Linked DNA regions of Homo sapiens: region 2 is linked to region 1. Evidence: fine-mapped expression QTL. A gene starts in region 1. The other region holds a variant in brackets. All regions are shown on one strand. Distances are between the middles of the regions.

Region 1 (4,249 bases):
GACCAGGCCCAGGCACACCAGGCCAAAGCAGGCCAGGGGCCCCCCCGAGGCCTGAACCAGTGGGCTGTCCCGATGGTGAACGAACAGCCCCAAAGCAGCCAGCACAAGGCCCAGCGCCAGGCTCAGCAGCAGGAGCAGCAGCAGCACAGCCGGCTCGCCCCATGCCAGGAACCGAGACCTGCGGCGGAAGCAGCGTGTGCTTCGCTCCGGGGACCACTCATCCTGGCCACAAAAGGTGCAGGCGATGTCGTCTGTGAGAGAGGAGAAGGGCGCTGGGTGTTCGTCTTGTACCCTGTGGGCTCTGGTCTCAGAGTCAGGACTTGGCAGGACCCTCCCCTGCTGCGTTCCCACCCCCGCCTGCCGGGAAGGCGGCTCACCTGGGTTTTGCCGGTAGCTGCCCGCCTCGCAGTCCACACAGTCGTAGCAGCAGGAGTGGAACCCCTTGACCCGGCGCACCTGGCCCTCCTGGCACTGCCGCGAGCACCGGGACACGGGCTTCTGCGCACAGGCCTGGGGTCTGGCTCTGCTCGGCTGGGCATGCCCACGGGAGACTGGAACGGCCCCCACCCCCAGGCTGCGCCCTGCCGCGGGGGCTACCACGGGCACGCCTGGCACACCCACCCTCACCTCACCTGGTTGTCAGACGTGTGCCAGCGGATCTTCAGGCGCTCTGTCCTGAGGCTGCCGTTGAACCTGCCCACGTCGTGGAGCCTGGGCACTGAGCCCTGCCACACCCACAGCTTCAGGTCGTACTCCATGTCCACGTTTCCGCTGCTGTCGAACCGCAGCGGCAGCCCGCCCACGTGGAAGGTCAGGTTGTACATGTTCTCCAGGAGCTGCGGGCGGGGGACGGGGCTGAGCCGCCAGCCACCTCCAGCTCAGGCGTGGTGGCCGTGCCTGGTGGCCTGGGCACATGCAGAGGACAGCACACCCCCATCTCCCGGGCTCACCTGCCAGGGCTTCACGGGGTCCTGCGCGGGGCAGCCTGAGGCGTTGCACTGAAGAGTGTTGTGCAGGGCCTGGGCCACGCTATACACAGCTGCGTAGACAGAGAACGTCTGGTGGTGATTTAGCCCTGCGCTCACGTTCTGCAGCGTGATGCAGTCACACTGCGGGCAGCGCTGGCCCACCACGTCCTCCTCCAGACCCTGCTCCCTCTCGCCCAGGGCAGAGCAGAAGGCCGGGTCGGTGGCCAGGGCCAGGTGCGTCTTCACGTACTGGGGGAACTCGTGCAGCTGGGCACCCCTCTGGAGGAAGCCAAGCACCGTGCCCATCTGGGCCATGCCGGGCAGCCCCATGACCAGGTCAGAGGTCAGCCAGGCCTCGCTGGCCACCCACACCTTGGGCGAGAGCCTGCTGCTGATGCTGTAGTTGAAGAGGGCGTGGGCGGCGTGCACGGAGGCGAACAGCAGCACCACCTGCACGCTGCTCTGGTTCACCTGGTGCAGGACGTCCTGCACCTTCCCCAGCCGCGAGTCATCGGCACGGGGCAGCGGCACCAGGCCCTCGTGCGCGATGCAGATGCCGCGTGCCGCGGCCAGGGCCGAGAAGATGCTCAGGCCCTGCCGGCCGTACTCGTCGTCGCTGCCCAGGGCGGCCACCCAGTTCCAGCCGAACTCCTGCAGCAGCTCCGCGGCGGCCGTCAGCTGCACACGGTCGCTGGGCACGGTGCGGAAGAAGGAGGGGAAGGTCTCCCGGGCGCTCAGCAGCTCCATGCTAGCACCGTAGCTGACCTGCAAGGGCCAAGAGGCATCTCCTGACACAGGGGCTCCCACGGGCAGGGCTGGGTGGGGGTGGGTGATGGTGGGGGGCGCCCACCTGGGGCATGAGGAAGAAGCTGAAGAACTTGCCGGTGACCATGGCGAGCTCTGACGAGTGGGGCCCGATGACAGCCAGCACACGGGGCTGGTACTGCGTGTAGTTGCAGTAGGCGGCGATGTCGCGGCTGCCTGCCTTGGCCAGGAACATGAGGCTGGGCTTCATGGCCACCACAGGCTCCGAGCACGTATCAAAGAGGTCGTAGCCCAGGCGCAGCCCGGGCAGCAGATCCGACTTGTTGTTGATCTCCTCCACGGCCATTTTCATGGCCAGTGCCCAGAGCAGGCCGTTTGAGGAGAACCTGGGGCCACACAGAACCGCAGATGGCCACCTCGGCCCCAGCTCAGGAGCACCCCAGACCTGGTCACCCTGACCCCGACCCAGGCCGTCCCACCTCTGTACCTGGTGCACACAGGGCTGCTGGGCCGTGTCCGGCTGCGGAGGCCAGCCTCCTCGGCCTCGCCCAGGGGGAACAGCCCCCCCAGCACGTAGTCCCCCTTCATCCTAAGTTGCTGTGACAGGCACAATGGGGCCCCCGTCCCAGGGTGCAGGAGAGCCCAGAGGCTGAGGCCCAGGACAGCAGGGCCCAGCATGGCAGAGGCAACTTCCAACAGGCACGGCAGGTGGCTGCCCCGACTGGGGCCTCACATGGAGTGAGCCCGGGGCGGGGAGCGGGCAGAGGATTTGTTTAGCAAAACCCTTGCCATCCTCACTTGCCACACCCTGGGGCCCCAGTGGTGTCCTCGCTTCCTGGGCCTGAAAGTTTGTGCGCGTCAGACTCTGCCTGAGGCCACTGCCAGGCTCTATGGCCAGCGTTGACCGGCAGGCAGGCTCTGCTCAGTTGCTGGCCGTGGCCTTGTTCCCTGCCTGTGGCTGAGCCCCTTGCCACCCCCCGATTCCTGGAGTTGCCCAGCAGGCTGTGGAGAGGAGAGGGGGCAAAGGGGCCTCCAGGGCTCTGAGGTCTCAGCTGCGTGGGAGGGATGCAGAGACACCCAGCCCTGGGGCTTTTCATAAGCACAGAAATGCCTCCTACCCAGCCCCGGGAGCTTCTGGCTCCCACTCAAGGCTGTGCTGGCCGGAGCCGGGGGCAGCAGGGATGGGCCCCCTAGGCCTGCAGACCAGTCAGGCCAGTGGGCAGCCGGCCAGCCAGGCCTCCACCCTGCAGCTGGGGAGGGCCCTGGGGTGGTGGTGCTGCCCTCCCAGTCTGCTTGGGAGCAGAGTTCCTTGAGGGTCTCAGCCCTTCTGCCAGAGTCTGACGCCTGGAAGCTGTAGGAACCGCATGGCCAGCTGTACTCACACTGCTGACCCCCGTCTGGGCCACTCCTGCGTGGCAGGCACACAGGTGGCTCCTGCTGGGGGTAGAGTTTGTTTGCCAGGGGGGCACGCAAACAAGGGAGGAAGGGCCACAGGCAAATGAGCGGCAGCTGGAGCAGCACCAGGTGTGCAGGGCCGGGACTCCTCTGCCTCTGTGTTGCTTTGGGGGTGCCCTCGGGGACACAGCAGACTCCAGGCGCAGGCCCTCCCAGGGGAACTGGGGGGCACTCAGCTTCAGCTAGGGCCTGGCAGACCTAGCAGATACCAGGAGGTGTGCCCTGGCTGGTGCTTCTTCCCCATGGTGTTGTGAGGAGGACCTGTGAGGGACACACACTACCACCGCACATGCATATGGCACATGCTGAGCACACGTGAATATGGCGCACATGCGAACCTGGCACACGAGCACAGGAATGCGGCACACACACAAACGGCACATGCGCATGGTACACGCGAATGGCACATGCACGGCACACGTGCATGGGACACGCACGGCACACGCAAGGAACACATGCATGGCATGCAAACGGCACACATGCATGCCACACGTGCACAGCATACATGCAAATGGCACACGTGTACGGTGCACACGAATGGCACATGCGCATGGTACACACAAATGGCACACGCACGGCAAGTGCATGGCACACGCGCATGGCACACACAAAACGGCACATGCAAATGGCACACACACGGCACACACAATACACACGGAAACGGCACATACACAAATGCCACACATGCATGGCACGCAAGCAAACGACGTGTGGCACACGCGCATCGCACGCAAATGGCACGTGCATGACACAAATGGCACATGCAAACAGCACACACATGGTACACGCAAAGCACATGGCACGCACATGCGCACAGCATACGCTCACAGCACACACGGCATACACAAATGGCACACATGCACGTGGCACACGTGCACGGCCAACACGCAGCACATACGTGCATGGCACATACACGAAAACAGCACACGCTCACGGCCAACACGCATGGCACATGCAACTGGCACCTGCACATTGCACAGATGGCACACATGCACATGGTACATGCAAACAGCACATGCAAACGGCACACGTGCGGCACACGCAAATAGCACACTCGCACT
Region 2 (4,249 bases), 30 kb after region 1:
TGGAACCTACCCTGGGAGCTCTTCCTGCCTCTGAGTGGCCGTGTGTGGTGGCGAGTGCAGGCGCCAGTGCCCACTGTGCTCACCACGCCCCGCTGGCCCACAGCTGGTGAAGCTGTGCAGTGGCATGGTGGAAGCCGGTAAGGCCTACGTCAGCACCAGCAGGCTTTTCGTGAGCGGCGTCCGCGACCTGTCCCAGCAGTGCCAGGGCGACACCGTCATCTCGGTGAGGGGCCGACTGACCTCTGACCTCAAGGTGGGGTTGGGGGAGAGGCCGAGGGAGGCAGCCCCTTGAGGGCGTCCAGGCCAGAAGCAGGCCGGTGTCTGCACCGCCCAGGGGCTCAGAGGGCGTGGCTGGGTGACCTGGGCCCGGATTTGCCATCTCAGCACGGGTTCCCATCTGCTCCTCCAGGAATGTCTGCAGAGGTTCGCTGACAGCCTACAGGAGGTGGTGAACTACCACATGGTGAGCGCGGCCTCCCTGCCACCTGTGGGCTGTGCCTGGCCTGGAACCGAGCTGCGCTGGCTCACCTGAAGGCCGGCGTCGGGTTGGGGGGGGCACGTTTCTGCTCCTCTAGTCGGGGGGGGGGGGAATCCCACATTTTCAAGTCAGTGTGGGGTTGGGGGACAGCCCTGGGGGCTCTGCCGTGTCCCAGGCAAGGGCCACACTAGACCCTGGGGGAGGGGTGGTTTATCCAGGGTTCCCCCAACTGGGCAGGGCTCTCGTCCCAGGCTGGCCTGGCTGCCATTTGGGTCTGGGTGGCCCCCGGGGGCCCTGGCACTGACGTGGATGGACACACAGGACAGGCACCCGTGAGATGTGGGGCTGCAGCCTGGGAACCTGAGCCGCAGACTGAACAGAGGAGGTCCCGAAGTAGACAAGGCAGGATGGCTCAGCCGTCCCTTTGCTCCTGGTTGTGCCCGGTCCTTCTCTACTTCGGGTTCCGATTCAGAGCCCAGGCTCCAGCTCCCCAGGCCCAGCCCCTGGGTGCTCCCGGCTCTGGCTGAGTGCTCCCTGCTGCAGGGATGGGCACCCCAGGGTGGCCGCCCAGGGCCAGGAGGCAGTGGGGCTCCGGCTCAGGCTGTGATGAGGCAGCCTTGGCCTCTGCACTCATCAAGGGCCAGGTGGGACAGAGGGGCAGGGGTGACAGCCATCGCCTCTGAGTGCCAACTCAGGCCTGGGGGCTGCTCCCCTGACCCCCTTGAGGCCAGCCCTGCAGGGTGGGACCCGCCCCTGCATCTGGGCCTGGGGGCAGTGCCCTCTGCTGGTGAGGATGGGGCCTTCCATCTGGGGCTCTTTCGGGACAGACCCCAAGGATCTCTGCCCGCCTCTGCCCCCAGATCCTGTTTGACCAGGCCCAGAGGTCCGTGCGGCAGCAGCTCCAGAGCTTTGTCAAAGAGTGAGTGGCCCCCAGGGCTGGGGGAAGAACACTGAGGCCACGCTCCCTCCCTTGGAGGGGAAGGGGGTCTGGGGCAGAGCAGAGGCACCTTGGGCCCAGGCCTCCAGGCTGTGCAGCGGCTCCACAAGGCAGAAGGCTCAGAGGCAGACAGCCGGGTGGAGTGCGGGGGGTTCCACACCCTGCATGTGTGGGTGGGGTGTCCAGCCCCCACAGCAGAGAGGTCCAGTCCACGTTGGGTTTGGGGGTCTGGAGTCTGGGGCATGGCTGGGGTCTGGGCTGGACAGATCTTGAGAGTGAGGTGGGGAGGGGCTGGGGAGGCCTGGAGCAGATGATCGGGGTCAGCAGGGGTGCGGGCAGGCCTGGGATAGGCTGGTGAGGAAGGAGGCTATGCCCAGGAGCAAAGAAAGGGCCTGGAGTGGAGGGGGGTGGGGCTGGGCATGGTGGCTCACACCTGTAATCCCAGCGTTTGGGAGGCCAAGGCCAGAGAATGCCAGGAGTTTGAGACCAGCCTGGGCAACGTAATGAGACCTCCATCTCTACAAAAAAAAAAAAAAAAAAAAATTAGATGGGCATGGTGGCACGTGCCTATGGTCCCAGCTATTCAGGAGGATGAGGTGGGAGGATCAGTTGAGCCCAGGAGGCGGAGGCAGCAGTGAGCCATGATTGTGCTACTGCACTCCAGCCTGGGTGACAGAGAGAGACTCCATCAAAAAAAAAAAAAAAAAAAAA[G/AG]ACACCCCCAAGAACCAAAAATAAGCCTTATATGGTGGCACGCACCTGTAGCCTCAGCTACTTGGGAGGCCGAGGTGGGAGAATTGCTTGAGCCTGGGAGGTAGAGGCTGCAGTGAGCCATAACTGTGCCACTGCACTCCAGCCTCCAGCCTGGGCAACAGAGACAGACCCTGTCTCAAACAAACAAAACCAGGCCAGGCGCAGTGGCTCACGCCTGTAATCCCAGCACGTTGGGAGACCGAGGTGGGTGAATCACCTGAGGTCGGGAGTTCAAGACCAGCCTGACCAACCTGGAGAAACCCCATCTCTACTAAAAATACAAAATTAGGCCTGGTGGCGCATGCCTGTAATCCCAGCTGCTAGGGAAGCTGAGGCAGGAGAATCACTTGAACTCGCGAGGCAGAGATTGCGGTGAGCCGAGACAGCACCATTGCACTCCAGCCTGGGTGACAAGAGCGAAACTCCGTCTCAAAAAACAAAAAACACACAAACAACGATGTGGGAGACTCCAGGATCCAGCAGGTGCCCTCCCTGATCTCTCACCCCACCTGGCACTTGGCCTCCAGGGATGTGCGGAAGTTCAAGGAGACAAAGAAGCAGTTTGACAAGGTGCGGGAGGACCTGGAGCTGTCCCTGGTGAGGAACGCCCAGGCCCCGAGGCACCGGCCCCACGAGGTGGAGGAAGCCACCGGGGCCCTCACCCTCACCAGGAAGTGCTTCCGCCACCTGGCACTGGACTATGTGCTCCAGGTCAGCCCCAGAAATGGGCTGGGGGGCGGGGACCAGCTGTAGCGAATGGAGGCCTCAACGGCCTTGTACAGAACTGGAGGGATTTTGAGCAGGAGTGACGATTCTTGCTTTGCCCATGGGTGGGAACTCCAGACATGGGGAAGCAGTCCAGGACCATGGGAGGATGAGGCTGGCCCAGAGCTGGGAGCTGAAGACGACCTGGGGGTCTCAGGGAACCACAAGCAGCTCAGGTGGACTCTATGGCAGGTGCAGGGCTTGGGGCTGCCTCAGCCTCCGGGGCTCACCTGTGGGCTCCCCCTCTGGCAGATCAATGTTCTGCAGGCCAAGAAGAAGTTTGAGATCCTGGACTCTGTGAGTGCGTGGGGGCTGCCCCTGAGCACAGGCTGCATGTTGGGGGCTGGACCGGGTGTGCTTGGGCCTCACCTGTGCTGCCCCCGCAGATGCTGTCCTTCATGCACGCCCAGTCCAGCTTCTTCCAGCAGGGCTACAGCCTCCTGCACCAGCTGGACCCCTACATGAAGAAGCTGGCAGCCGAGGTGAGCCTTTGGGAGGGGTGGGGCTGGGCCAGGCCTCCGTGACCTTCCCTAATGCCACCCCCAACAGCTGGACCAGCTGGTGATCGACTCTGCGGTGGAAAAGCGTGAGATGGAGCGAAAGCACGCCGCCATCCAGCAGCGGGTGAGGCCGCGCAGCCGGCTCCCTGCACACCAGGCGCCTGGGAGGCCCCTGCGTCCTCACCCCATGCCCGGCACACCCTCCCCGCCCCTTCCTCCTGCCTGTCTCCCACCTGCCCTGCCCACACCCTCTCTAGGGGACCAAGGCTGCTCCCTTTGATGTGTGCAGTGGAGGGGCACGTGTGGGTGGGGCCGCTGCTGGGATCTCCTTTTGAGGCGGTGGTCACCTCTGTGGCCTCAGTCACTGGCTCCTTGCGGGGCCTTTGCTTGCCTGTGGGACAGCAGCCCCGGCCACCATCCCGGGCAGAGGTTGGCTGCAGGCAGGAGTGGCTATTTTGGGATAGGGGAGAGCCCCCCAGGAGTTGGGGACGGGTCCACCAGTCACCAGGAGTTGGGGACGGGTCCACCAGTCACCAGGAGTTGGCAGCCGTCACTCACTGGCTTTCTCCCCCTACCCCCTCCTGCTCCGGCCCTCCAGACGCTGCTGCAGGTAAGTGAGCACGGGCCCTGGGCGGGCTGTGGGTCGGGGGAGACCAGATGGGGCGGTGCCTTTCCCTCCTCTACCCCAAGGGCACTTCAGCACCAAGGACACCTCCCACCAGTCTCGGCTCCTGCTGCTGATGCGGCTGTGAGGGGCTGGCTCCGGCCAGACCTCCACATTCCCCGTGGGGTTGGCGGCAGCTGTCCCTTCCCATCCCA

Direction of the effects. Alleles are on the strand shown, and positions count from the first base shown. SD is a standard deviation of normalised expression in the study named.
As copies of AG replace G in region 2, the expression in memory regulatory T cells of the gene that starts at base 2,477 in region 1 goes up (large effect, 1.5 SD a copy in Schmiedel 2018).

The links. PIP is the estimated chance that this variant, and not a neighbour inherited with it, causes the effect. A credible set is the group of variants that fine-mapping cannot tell apart.
Region 2: its variant is the best candidate, but not a certain one, in a credible set for the expression of TAS1R3 in memory regulatory T cells (Schmiedel 2018, PIP 0.55).

Annotation. Positions count from the first base shown.
Region 1 is chr1:1,329,508-1,333,756 of GRCh38, reverse strand. TAS1R3 (taste 1 receptor member 3) reads right to left here and starts at 2,477. Exons shown (of 6, transcript NM_152228.3): 1 at 2,221-2,477; 2 at 1,819-2,119; 3 at 951-1,733; 4 at 633-836; 5 at 378-498; 6 at 1-251. The coding sequence starts at 2,411.
Region 2 is chr1:1,299,136-1,303,384 of GRCh38, reverse strand. ACAP3 (ArfGAP with coiled-coil, ankyrin repeat and PH domains 3) reads left to right here. Exons shown (of 24, transcript NM_030649.3): 3 at 104-223; 4 at 410-463; 5 at 1,339-1,397; 6 at 2,693-2,876; 7 at 3,183-3,227; 8 at 3,317-3,412; 9 at 3,480-3,554; 10 at 4,029-4,040. Among named protein-coding and RNA genes, the nearest start is that of SNORD167, 3.6 kb to the left of the region's middle. RefSeq lists enhancers at 1-412, 413-1,012, 1,013-1,614. The variant G/AG (reference allele first, on the strand shown) is at 2,127.